Linked DNA regions of Homo sapiens. The protein of the gene in region 3 interacts with the protein of the main gene of each other region in a pairwise test. Each region holds a gene or a part of one and is shown on either strand. Other genes may lie near its edges. The genes, in order: KRCC1, EPB41L3 and SPANXN2.

The links.
Region 1: the proteins of SPANXN2 (region 3) and KRCC1 interact in binary tests that used the Homo sapiens proteins (3 or more experiments, as listed by UniProt).
Region 2: the proteins of SPANXN2 (region 3) and EPB41L3 interact in binary tests that used the Homo sapiens proteins (3 or more experiments, as listed by UniProt).

Annotation. Positions count from the first base shown.
Region 1 is NC_000002.12:88,029,245-88,031,783, reverse strand, and holds part of KRCC1 (lysine-rich coiled-coil protein 1), read left to right. Parts: intron 1-2,539.
Region 2 is NC_000018.10:5,533,908-5,537,648, reverse strand, and holds part of EPB41L3 (band 4.1-like protein 3), read left to right. Parts: intron 1-3,741. UniProt on the Homo sapiens protein: Tumor suppressor that inhibits cell proliferation and promotes apoptosis. Modulates the activity of protein arginine N-methyltransferases, including PRMT3 and PRMT5.
Region 3 is NC_000023.11:143,718,602-143,722,442, reverse strand, and holds the start of SPANXN2 (sperm protein associated with the nucleus on the X chromosome N2), read left to right. Parts: upstream 1-1,690; 5' UTR 1,691-1,774; coding exon 1,775-1,852; intron 1,853-3,841.

The DNA.
Region 1 (2,539 bases), on a different chromosome or scaffold from region 3:
AAACTTTTAAATTTTTTTAACTTTTTGACTATTTTGTAATCACACTTAGGTTAAAACACATTGTCCAGCTGCACAAAAATATTTTATTTCTTTATATCTTTATCCTAGCCTTTTCCTATTTTATTCTTAACTTTTTTTTTATTTTTATTTTTTTATTTTTTTGAGATGGAGTCTCACTCTGTTGCCCAGGCTGGAGTGCAGTGGCACGATCTCGGCTCACCGCAACCTCTGCCTCCTAGGTTCAGGCGATTCTCCAGCCTCAGCCTCCCAAGCAGCTGGGATTACAGACATGCGCCACCATGCCCAGCTAATTTTTGTATTTTTAGTAGAGTCGGGGTTTCACGATATTGGCCAGGCTGGTCTCGAACTCCTGACCTCAAGTGATCCACCCACCTGGCCTCCCAAAGTTCTGGGATTACAGGCATGGGCCACCACACCTGGCCCTATTTTTTTTTTTCACTTGTTAAACTTTTTTATGAAAAGCTAAGACACAAACACACACATTAGCCTAAGCCTTCACAGGGTTCAGGATCATCATCACTGTCTTCTCCCTCCACATCTTGTCCCACTGGGGGGTCTTCAGGGGCAGTAACATGCATGGAGCTGTCATCACCTATGGTGCCATCTTCTGGAATACCTTCTGAAGGACCTTCCTGAGGCTGTTTTACAGTTAACTTTTTTTTTTAATAAGGAGAAAGAATATACTCTAAAATAATTTAAAATATAGTATAGTAAATAAATCATAAACCAGTTATCAAATCTTATGTACTGTACATAGTGTATGCTATACTTTTATATGGCAGTATAGTAGATTCGTTTATACCAGCATCACTACAAACACATGAATAATGAATTGTGCATTATTCACATTACTGTGACTTTTTCAGCTCCACTATAATTTTATGGGACCACCATCATATATTCAGTCCATTGTTGACCAAAAGATTATTATGCAGTGCATGACTGTATCTCCTTTTCCTTTAAGGAAATACCTAGAAGTAGAATAACTGCATCATATGGGGTAAATGTATGTTTAACTTCTTAAGAAACTGCCAAACTGTTTTTCAAGTGGTTGTACCATTTTACATTCCTATCAACAATATTTGAGAGTTCCAGATCCTTATCAGCACTGGTATTGTCAATCTTTTTCATTTTAATCATTCTGGTAAGTGCATAGTGGTATCTCATTGTGGTTTTAATTCACATTTACTTGCTGATCAGTGCTTTTAAACATCTTTTCATGTGCTTATTGGCCATTTGCATATATTCTTTTCTGAAGTATAGGTTAAAATAGTTTGCCCATATTTAAGCAAGTATTTGTTACATTATTTTTTATTATTTTTCTAGTCAGAATTTGTATACTATTTAAGTTGAACAAGAACTATATTTTCTAACTTGCCAAATTAGGCTTCATTTAGATTTTCTTTTTAACCTCAAATTTCCAAATTTGAAAAACTGGCTGATCATTAGTCTCAAAAAATTAGGAGGGAGTATATCCCATGTTGAACTGAACATTTCTTCCCTTTAGCAGAAACAAGCCTTGTTTCTGAGAGCTGAAGAAATGTTCAGTTCTACATGGGATATATGCCCTCCTAATTTTTTGAGATAAACTGTATCACCAAAAATATATAGGGCAGGTGGGACACAGTGGCTCACACCTGTAATCCCAGCACTTTGGGAGGCCGAGGCAGGCAGATCACCTGAGGTCAGGAGTTGGAGACCAGCCTGGCCAACATGGTGAAACCGCATCTCTACTAAAAATACAAAAATTAGCCAGGCGTGGTGGTGTGCACCTGTAGTCTTAACTACTCAGGAGGCTGAGGCAGGAGAATCACTTGAACCCTGGAGGCGGAGGTTGCAGTGAGACGAGATCGTGCCATTGAACTCCAGCCTGGGTGATAGGGCAAGACTCCATCTCAAAAAAAAAAATATATATATATATATTTTTTTATATATATATAATATTATAATTTCATAGTAAGTACATTTTCTGCTATATTTGTATTTATTCAGGATTTGAGGTGAGGAAAAGAATCAGGAACAGTCTTGCCCTTCCCCCCAAAAAAGAATCAAGCAAACAAAAATGGTGTATCTACTGCAAGTTTCTTCTGAAACTCTTCTCCAAATCAGTCCTATCCCTTTTCAGTTTTCACCCCTGTTTCTTCCCTTATTCCTCTCACCAGTACTTTAAGAGAGAACAAACCAGAAGACATTCTAGAATGCTTTTTTCACCAATCAGAAGTAGTGGAATGAAATCCAAGCCTACACAGAAGATACAGAACTCTGTGCTTTCATCTTCCCTCATACCTGATACCTAAAAGTAGTTTTCATCTTATAACTGAATTTCTGATTTTCAGCATTCCCAATCAATTTTATAAACATCCTTTTATTGTTAAGTCTTACAGTACTCTCGTCAGGTGAGTACGTTTATTTTATCTTGAGTAAACTGAAGATTTTAAAAATCAAATTCTGTATCTGTGGTTCCTTTACTTCTCTTAGAAACTAATATACAGGAAACCAATTCATGAGAACTTCAGAA
Region 2 (3,741 bases), on a different chromosome or scaffold from region 3:
TGAGGCCTGATTGTGGAAGGTTTTTGGATATGAGACTAAGGGATATTTGGGGCTTTGCTAGGTAGTGGGGAGTTATTGAAAGTGGTTGAGTAGGGAAGAAGAATATTTTTTCTGGTGATAAGTGTAGGATGAGTTGGAAGAATAGGAATCTGGAGACAGATGGTCTTTAGTTAATGGAGTTATCCAAAATTTTGCAGAAATTGAATGTGATGTTTTTTTCTCTCAATGATTGATATTTTGGCAATTCATTCCATCTTTTTGTGGGAGTATTTAACTGAGGATTAAATACTACTTTTGGATTGTTTAAGGTAGAAAATGAGATATACGAAATATGGGAAGATTTTCCTTATCCTTTCAATGAATGTATCTCAGTTATTTGAGATATTAAAAATAATACATTCTCACTTTAAAATATAGTCTAACAATACAGAAAAACCAAAAAAGGCAATGTCATTATCTACCTTTCTGAATGTATTACGTATCAGAGTGGAATAGGACACACCTGGGTTGGGCTCTCGGCCTTGCTATTTAATAACTATGTGGCATGGTTCTTTTAACTTCCTAGAGCCTGTTTGCTCGTTTATAAAATGGGCATAATGCTTATATCTGAAGGATATGAGGATTAAATGATGTAATACATGCAAACACTGAGCACAGTATCTGGTATATCACAAGTGCTTCATAAATAGCAGTAGCATCATTTTGTACATATACAGACTCATATGTAGATTACATAATATTTTACATGAATAGACTTCTGTCTTAAATACTTCTATGTAACCATTTTTTGTTTGTTTGTTTCGTTTGTTTGTTTTTTGAGAACAGAGTCTCACTCTGTTGCCCAGGCTGGAGTGCAGTGGCACGATATCAGCTCACAGCAACCTCTGCCTCCCGGGTTCAAGTGAGCCTCCCAGGTTCAAGCGAGTCTCCTGCCTCAGCCTCCCAAGTAGCTGGGATTATAGGCAACCGCCACCCTGCCCAGCTATTTTTTTTTTTTTTGAATTTTTAGTAGACATGGGGTTTTACCACGTTGGCAAGGCTGGTCTCGAATGATCCTGACCTCAAATGATCTGCCCGCCTTGGCCTCCCAAAGTGCTGGGATTACAGGTGTGAGCCACCGCACCAGGCCAAATTTTTTTTTTTTTTAAATGTAACAGTATGTCTCGGAGGAGCTTTTTCATGCATGCAAATCTATACCCACATCATTATTTTTAATGGTAAATAAATATTTTCTTTTGGTCTTGTGCAATATTGATAAAGGATCATTACCTTAATGATGGTGTTGATGTGAAGCCTTGTTGTCCAGCCCCTCTGCCTCCTTCTGCTTGCTGCCTACACTTCATGACTCTCTTCTAATATACACATCAGGAGGCTTGTGGTAAAACAGGATATTTAAAAAAATTAAAATCTCTGATGATTATTATGTATATCTCAATGTTGTGTGTGAATATTGAGTTCTAACAAACTAAAACAAGCAAATTTTCACCATAGATTTCCTGACTTTTTTAAATTTAGATTTTAATGTCATCTCTTTATAGAGGGGCGAGCTCATCCAGCAAAGCCTAACCTGAGTTCCTGGGTGCCCATCATTCTCCCATGTGCCTCTTGGCATGCCTCGAGGGACAGCAGATGCAGCAGTCTGGACCTGAACTAGACTCTCCAGAATCAAAATATCCAGGGTCTGGGATAGTTTAGTAGGTGTACGGGGTCACTGGGCTCCCAGAGATGGAAAATATTAAGCTTCCTTTGATCTCTCTCTGAGTTCCCAACCCTTCCTTCGTCCTCAACAACAGAATGGTAACAAATGTCATATTCCATTCACAGATTTTATGCCACCTCGTCAGGGATGTGGGCTGCTCTGTTATGTTATTCACAATCCCATGATTTTGACTGATCTTGGATTTACTTGGAATCCAGTCTTCATTCACCAATTTGGGGAGAATAGCTTTATGATCCTGAAGGTGGTGCTAGCTGGAATGGTGCACCCAGGCTTCTGTGAGATGATGCCATCGGGGCATCTAGAGGTCTCAGGCTGGCCCGGACAGTTGCATATTTCTACGTAATTTTTTCCTAGAGTTACTAACATCCCAGAGATATAGGGAGTTTTGGGTAGTTTCATTACAGAGAATTATTCTTGATGAATTTTGGTGTTTTATACCATTTTGTGCTACTCAGTGACAACTTTTATTAACTTTAGAAGGAATATGCTTACTGGCTAAGTATAAGACTTGGAAAATAGAGATTGACTAGGTTGTCTGCTCAAGAAGTCTGGAAAACTTTTCCTCTGAATTCTTGAAATGAGAGCAGTAATTCATTGGGGGGAGTTATATTGTAGAACAGGGGTCCCCAACCTTTTTAGCACCAAGGACCTCCATTTTGCTTACCTCCTGCTGTGTGGCCCTGTCCTTGGCACAGAGGTTGGGGTTTCATGGAAGACAGTTTTTCCATGGACGGGGGTTGTGGGGGATGGTTTCAGGAAGAAACTGTTCCACTTCACATCATCAGATTCTCAGAAGGAATGCACAACCTAGATCCCTCACGTGTGCGGTTCACATTCTCACATTCTCACTCAAGAATGTGAATCAAATGCCACTTCTGATCTGACAGGAGGCGGAGATCAGGTGGTAATGCTGACTCACCCACCGCTCACCACCACTGTCCTTGGCCCAGTGGTGGGGAATCCTTGTTGCAGAATAAAGAAAATACAAAGAGCTAGAGAAGATACAGATGGAAACATCTGCTAACCTTGAGCTAGGTAACTGTGGGAGGAGTACTCTATTTCTCTAGGCAAGGTTCCCCAGAGTGAACAGATGACGATGCTGCCTACCTCCAGGTTGAAATGAGATCTGTGTTTGAAGACATCTAGAACCAGTCTAATGAGAGTATACACATAGTACATGTTTTCTCATTTCAGTAGTATATGCTGTTGTCCTCTTTGCTTGTTTTTAGGGACATGTCTTAGTAATTGTAAGATCCAAAGATGACCCTCAGGATGAGTGTAGAATTTTGTGACATTCCACCACAAAACCCGTAATCCAAAAGATGGCCCTCTATGAGAATGCAGAATTTTTTGAGTATGAAACTCCAGATAACAGTAGAGGTTTGCAAAGAATGAGACACAGTGGTTATACAACAGAATTACCTGATGAGTTTATTAAAAAGGAATTTTTGGGGACCAATCCACGGATTATCATCTAATAGATCTGCAGTTGGATCCAGACCTCCTTATGTCCCGACAAGTACTTTGGTGAAATCTGATCCAGGTGGTCCCAGGACCACATTTTGAGACACACTGTCTTAACGACTTTTGTCTTAATGACTTTCCAGCTTCTTCACTATTGTCAAATGAGCGTTTAACCTGGAAAGAAGATATAATATAAATAAATAGTACTAAGGTTGAAGAAAATGTTTAGCATAGAGCAAAGAAACCTGGCCTTGGACTCAGAATGCTTGGGTTTCTTTTTTTCTTTCTTTTTTCTTTTTTTTGAGACGGAGTCTCGCTCTGTCACCCAGGCTGGAGTGCAGTGGCGAGATCTCGGCTCACTGCCAGCTCCGCCTCCCAGGTTCATGCCATTCTCCTGCCTCAGACTCCCAAGGAGCTGGGACTACAGGCGCCCGCCACCACGCCTTGCTAATTTTTTGTATTTTAGTGGAGACGGGGTTTCACTGTGTTAGCCAGGCTGGTCTCGATCTCCTGACTTTGCGATCTGCCCATCTCAGCCTCCCAAAGTGCTGGGATTA
Region 3 (3,841 bases):
GCCATGCCTTCTCTATTTTCAGTCCTCTTTCTTACTGTCTTTTAAAATATTTTTAGATTTTTATTTTGAAACAATTATAAATTCACAAGAAGTTTCAAAGATACGTACATGGAGGCCTTTTGTACCCTTCAACCAGTCTCTCCCAATAGTAAAATCTTCAATACACTACCACATTACACTATCAAAACTAGAACATTGACAGTGATGCAATCCAGAGCTTTTTAAGATTCAACACTTTTCTTTTGACTATTCTAGGCACTTTATATTTCCATAGGAATATTATAATTATCTTGTCAATTTCTATTAAAAAGGCTTTTTAGAATTTTGATTAGAATTTAGTTGAATCCACAGATGAAATTGGAAATAACTGCCATTTTACAATATTGAATCTTCCAACCGAAAATCAAAGTATAGATCTCAATTTTTTTCTTATGTCATTAATTTATCATTGTAAATTTTTGTAGTTTTAAGTGTACAAGTCATTTACATCTTTGGTCAGATTTATCCCTAAGCCTTTAATATTTTTAGTGATATTTTAAATTGCACTGTTCTTAGTTTCAACTTTCAGTTGTTGAAATTAACTTCCAGTCCACCCTAGGACTACCATTGGCTAAAACATTGTCTCTTCTAATATAGAAACTTCTCATATGTAACTGCTAATATATAAACATACAATTGATTTGTGTGTTGATCTCTTACTTTGCAATTTTGCTAACCTCAATTAATGTAGAACCATTTTTTTAGATTGACTTTTCTACATATACTCTCAGGTAGTCTTTGACAAAAGATACTTTTACTTCTCCCTTTCCAATCTGAATGCATTTTTTTTTCTTTTACACTGGACACAATCTCCAGTACAAAGTATAACTGTGCCCATACTGGTGCACATGTGGGTCTTAGATTGTAGCATCCTGCAGGTAAATACTCAGAACAACTTCCAGCACTTGAATATCCACTCCTTCCCCCACCCACATACTGGCAGAATTCATGTTGGGATACTACATTTACTATGAACATAGACCCCTGATTTGAAACAAGACTAGGATACATGGTAAAGAAAGTTTATTCACCAAAGTTTTGACAGACTGAAGGCCATTATTTCAGATTGGAGATAGGAAACTTAAAAGAACTACATGGACATTGGGTAAAAGAACATGGGTTGAAATTTGCCTGGCAGTAGCCTAAAAGTAAATGGTCTTCAAGGTGCATGTGAAGGAACTGTAGGAGGGAAATGGGATAATTCACATCTCCACCAATAATTAAATGTAGCCACACTAGCTTGGAGGGATTTGAGGTGAGACATCTAAAATACTAAGTCATGGTGAGGGCTGGAAGACAAAAGAATGAATGACTTCATAGGAATGACTGTGGGGAAGGGCTTGAAGGAATCATCCTCTCACTTCCATGTGAACCATGAACATTAAACATGGAGAAATGAGCAGCAGCAGATTAGTTTGGGATGCATCTTCAGGGGATGCTGAAACAACAACAGCATTTGGTTTCCTCTACACCCCTGTCATCCGTCCCCCACAAGCCCAGGGAGTGGTCAGCAGTGGTGCTTTGTGATGTCTAAGCCACCCTAGGACTGCCATTGGCTGGGACACTGCCTGTATGATCAAACAAAGCTCAAGAGTGTGGCTTTGCCTTGCCACCAGGAAGGTATACATAGGGAGGGCCAGAGCTCTGGGACATCCTCCTGGCAAGCTTCAATATAGCTGTGGAAGTCTGCAGTCTACAAGAGCCTACTATAGACATTCTACAACCAAGCAGAATCATGGAACAGCCGACTTCAAGCACCAATGGGGAGAAGAGGAAGAGCCCCTGTGAATCCAATAACAAAAAAAATGATGAGGTAAGATTGTTAGGTTTTGAAGGGAAGGTGAGGGTGAAAGAAAGACACACAGAGAAGGGACGGCTCAAACAGCAACACAGGAATACTGCAGACACCTGTGGAAGTGGGGGACCCGCTTAATGCCAGAACCCACCGCCGCTTACAGGCTGGGGTGCTTATAGGTATGGGTGGGAGGGGCCGGGGCAGTATGGCTTGCTGCCCGGCAGGATATTGATAAGATGTTTTTATGATCAGGCTGTTTGGTCCTTTTTCCAGTGGGATGTCATTGTGGTGTTTCTTGGAACTTTGCCCAGCAAGATACCATAGGAAAGTTTCTTTAGTTGGACCTGTGTCCGCCTTGTGTTACGACGATTAGGCAAGATTTTTCTCATGGCCCGAACCCCCGTGGAATGTTTCACTTTGATCAAGGTCTGCAAAATAGCAGGGTGCTTACTAAATGGTGGTTTGGACTCACATTCTTGCCTTCTACTTTAGTATAAAAGGAAGAGGGGCATTGTTGATTATCTGGCTGCTTGCTGCCGAATAGGGGAGCTGTAATCAGGGTTTGGGTTTTGAAGCAGGGGGTGACGGACTTCAGAGTTGTTTTCCTGGAGGCACTGGTACCGGACTTGGCAGAGGAGAAGGATGGTATCAATGTGTTGCTGGGTGGCTGCCTGGAGAGGGGAGTTTAGCCTTCGGGAGATAAAGCAGGATATGAAGGTGAGTATACATCGGCCAAATGTACTATCAGGAGGAGGAAGATTAACGGCCCTAAGAAAGGGACCACCTGCTATCCCAGTGCTGAGTGCATCAGAGATGTTTAGTTCTGCTAACACTAGAATGAGATGTACAGCCTGCTTAGTGTGTGTGGAGGAAGATGAGACAGAAGCTACTAAAGGAACCTGGATGGTCTGCTTGTTAGGCAAAGTGTTAATGTTTAGATTGAAACACAAGGGTGCATGTTCCTGACCAATTGGCCAGTAGGCAGAGATAAGAGTTTGTGCCGCAAAGGAAGAAGACACTAGGGGTGGACAGACAAAAGTTGTAGGTTATGGTGGCAAGTCATGAGAAGGTGGGGGTTGAATTCTGCACAAACCCTTTGTTTTAACTTTTATGTTTTTCCAAGTTGAATACCTGCCAGCAAGGGTAGCCCCTCTGAAGGCCTGATAGGAAATGTTGGTAGTGGAGGAGGTGAAGGCTGTTTGGTTTTGGAGAGAGAGCAGGAAATGGGTTTTTGTAACTAATAGCCATTGCGGTCCTGACAGCGCAGAAGGATACAGGTTGCAGTTGAGGGAATTGTTTGTGGATATTTTCCAGGGAGCGCCCTTGACTTGGATACATGGAGAGCGGCTCCGGCAGAAAGGGGAGGGGTTGATAAGAGGTATTTTCTGGAATCCGACTGGTAACATGTTTAGTTAAGAGGCTATGAGGTGAAGGAGGGTGACAGCCCTGTGTGTGACGGTGTGGGTGGATTTGATGGATTGGTGGGGGGGGAAAGGTGATTAGCCGAGCAAGATTATAAGCAGGTTTTGCGAATGAATTGGTCAATTAGGTGAAATGCAGGTTTATTTTGGACAGGGTTCATGTGGCCAGGTTAACAGGAAGGGCTGTGAACTACTGGATTTGTGTGGACAAACAAATTTAACAGTTGGAAGGAAGAGGGGAGTGTGACTGATTTAAGAGGCAGTGAGGCTGATGAAGGGGGCTCATCTGTTAGACGTTCGGGGTGGGGACTTAGAATATCCCACAGATAGAGAGGACAAAAGGAGAAAGAGGAGATTTGAGTAGGAGTGAAATTTTGGAAGGTGCCCTGAAGTCATATCTCCTTGATTAGTGTGACAAATTGGCCTGGACTATTCAGGGTCATGGGGAAGGGAAACCAGGAAAGATCTGAAATAAAGTAGGAGACAAAAGATTGGAAACTGGAGACAGAGAGTGTTATGGACTAAGGTGTTCTGGATTGGCAACTTCTGGAATTCTTGTTAAGTACAGTGAGGTTGGTCTTGTCAG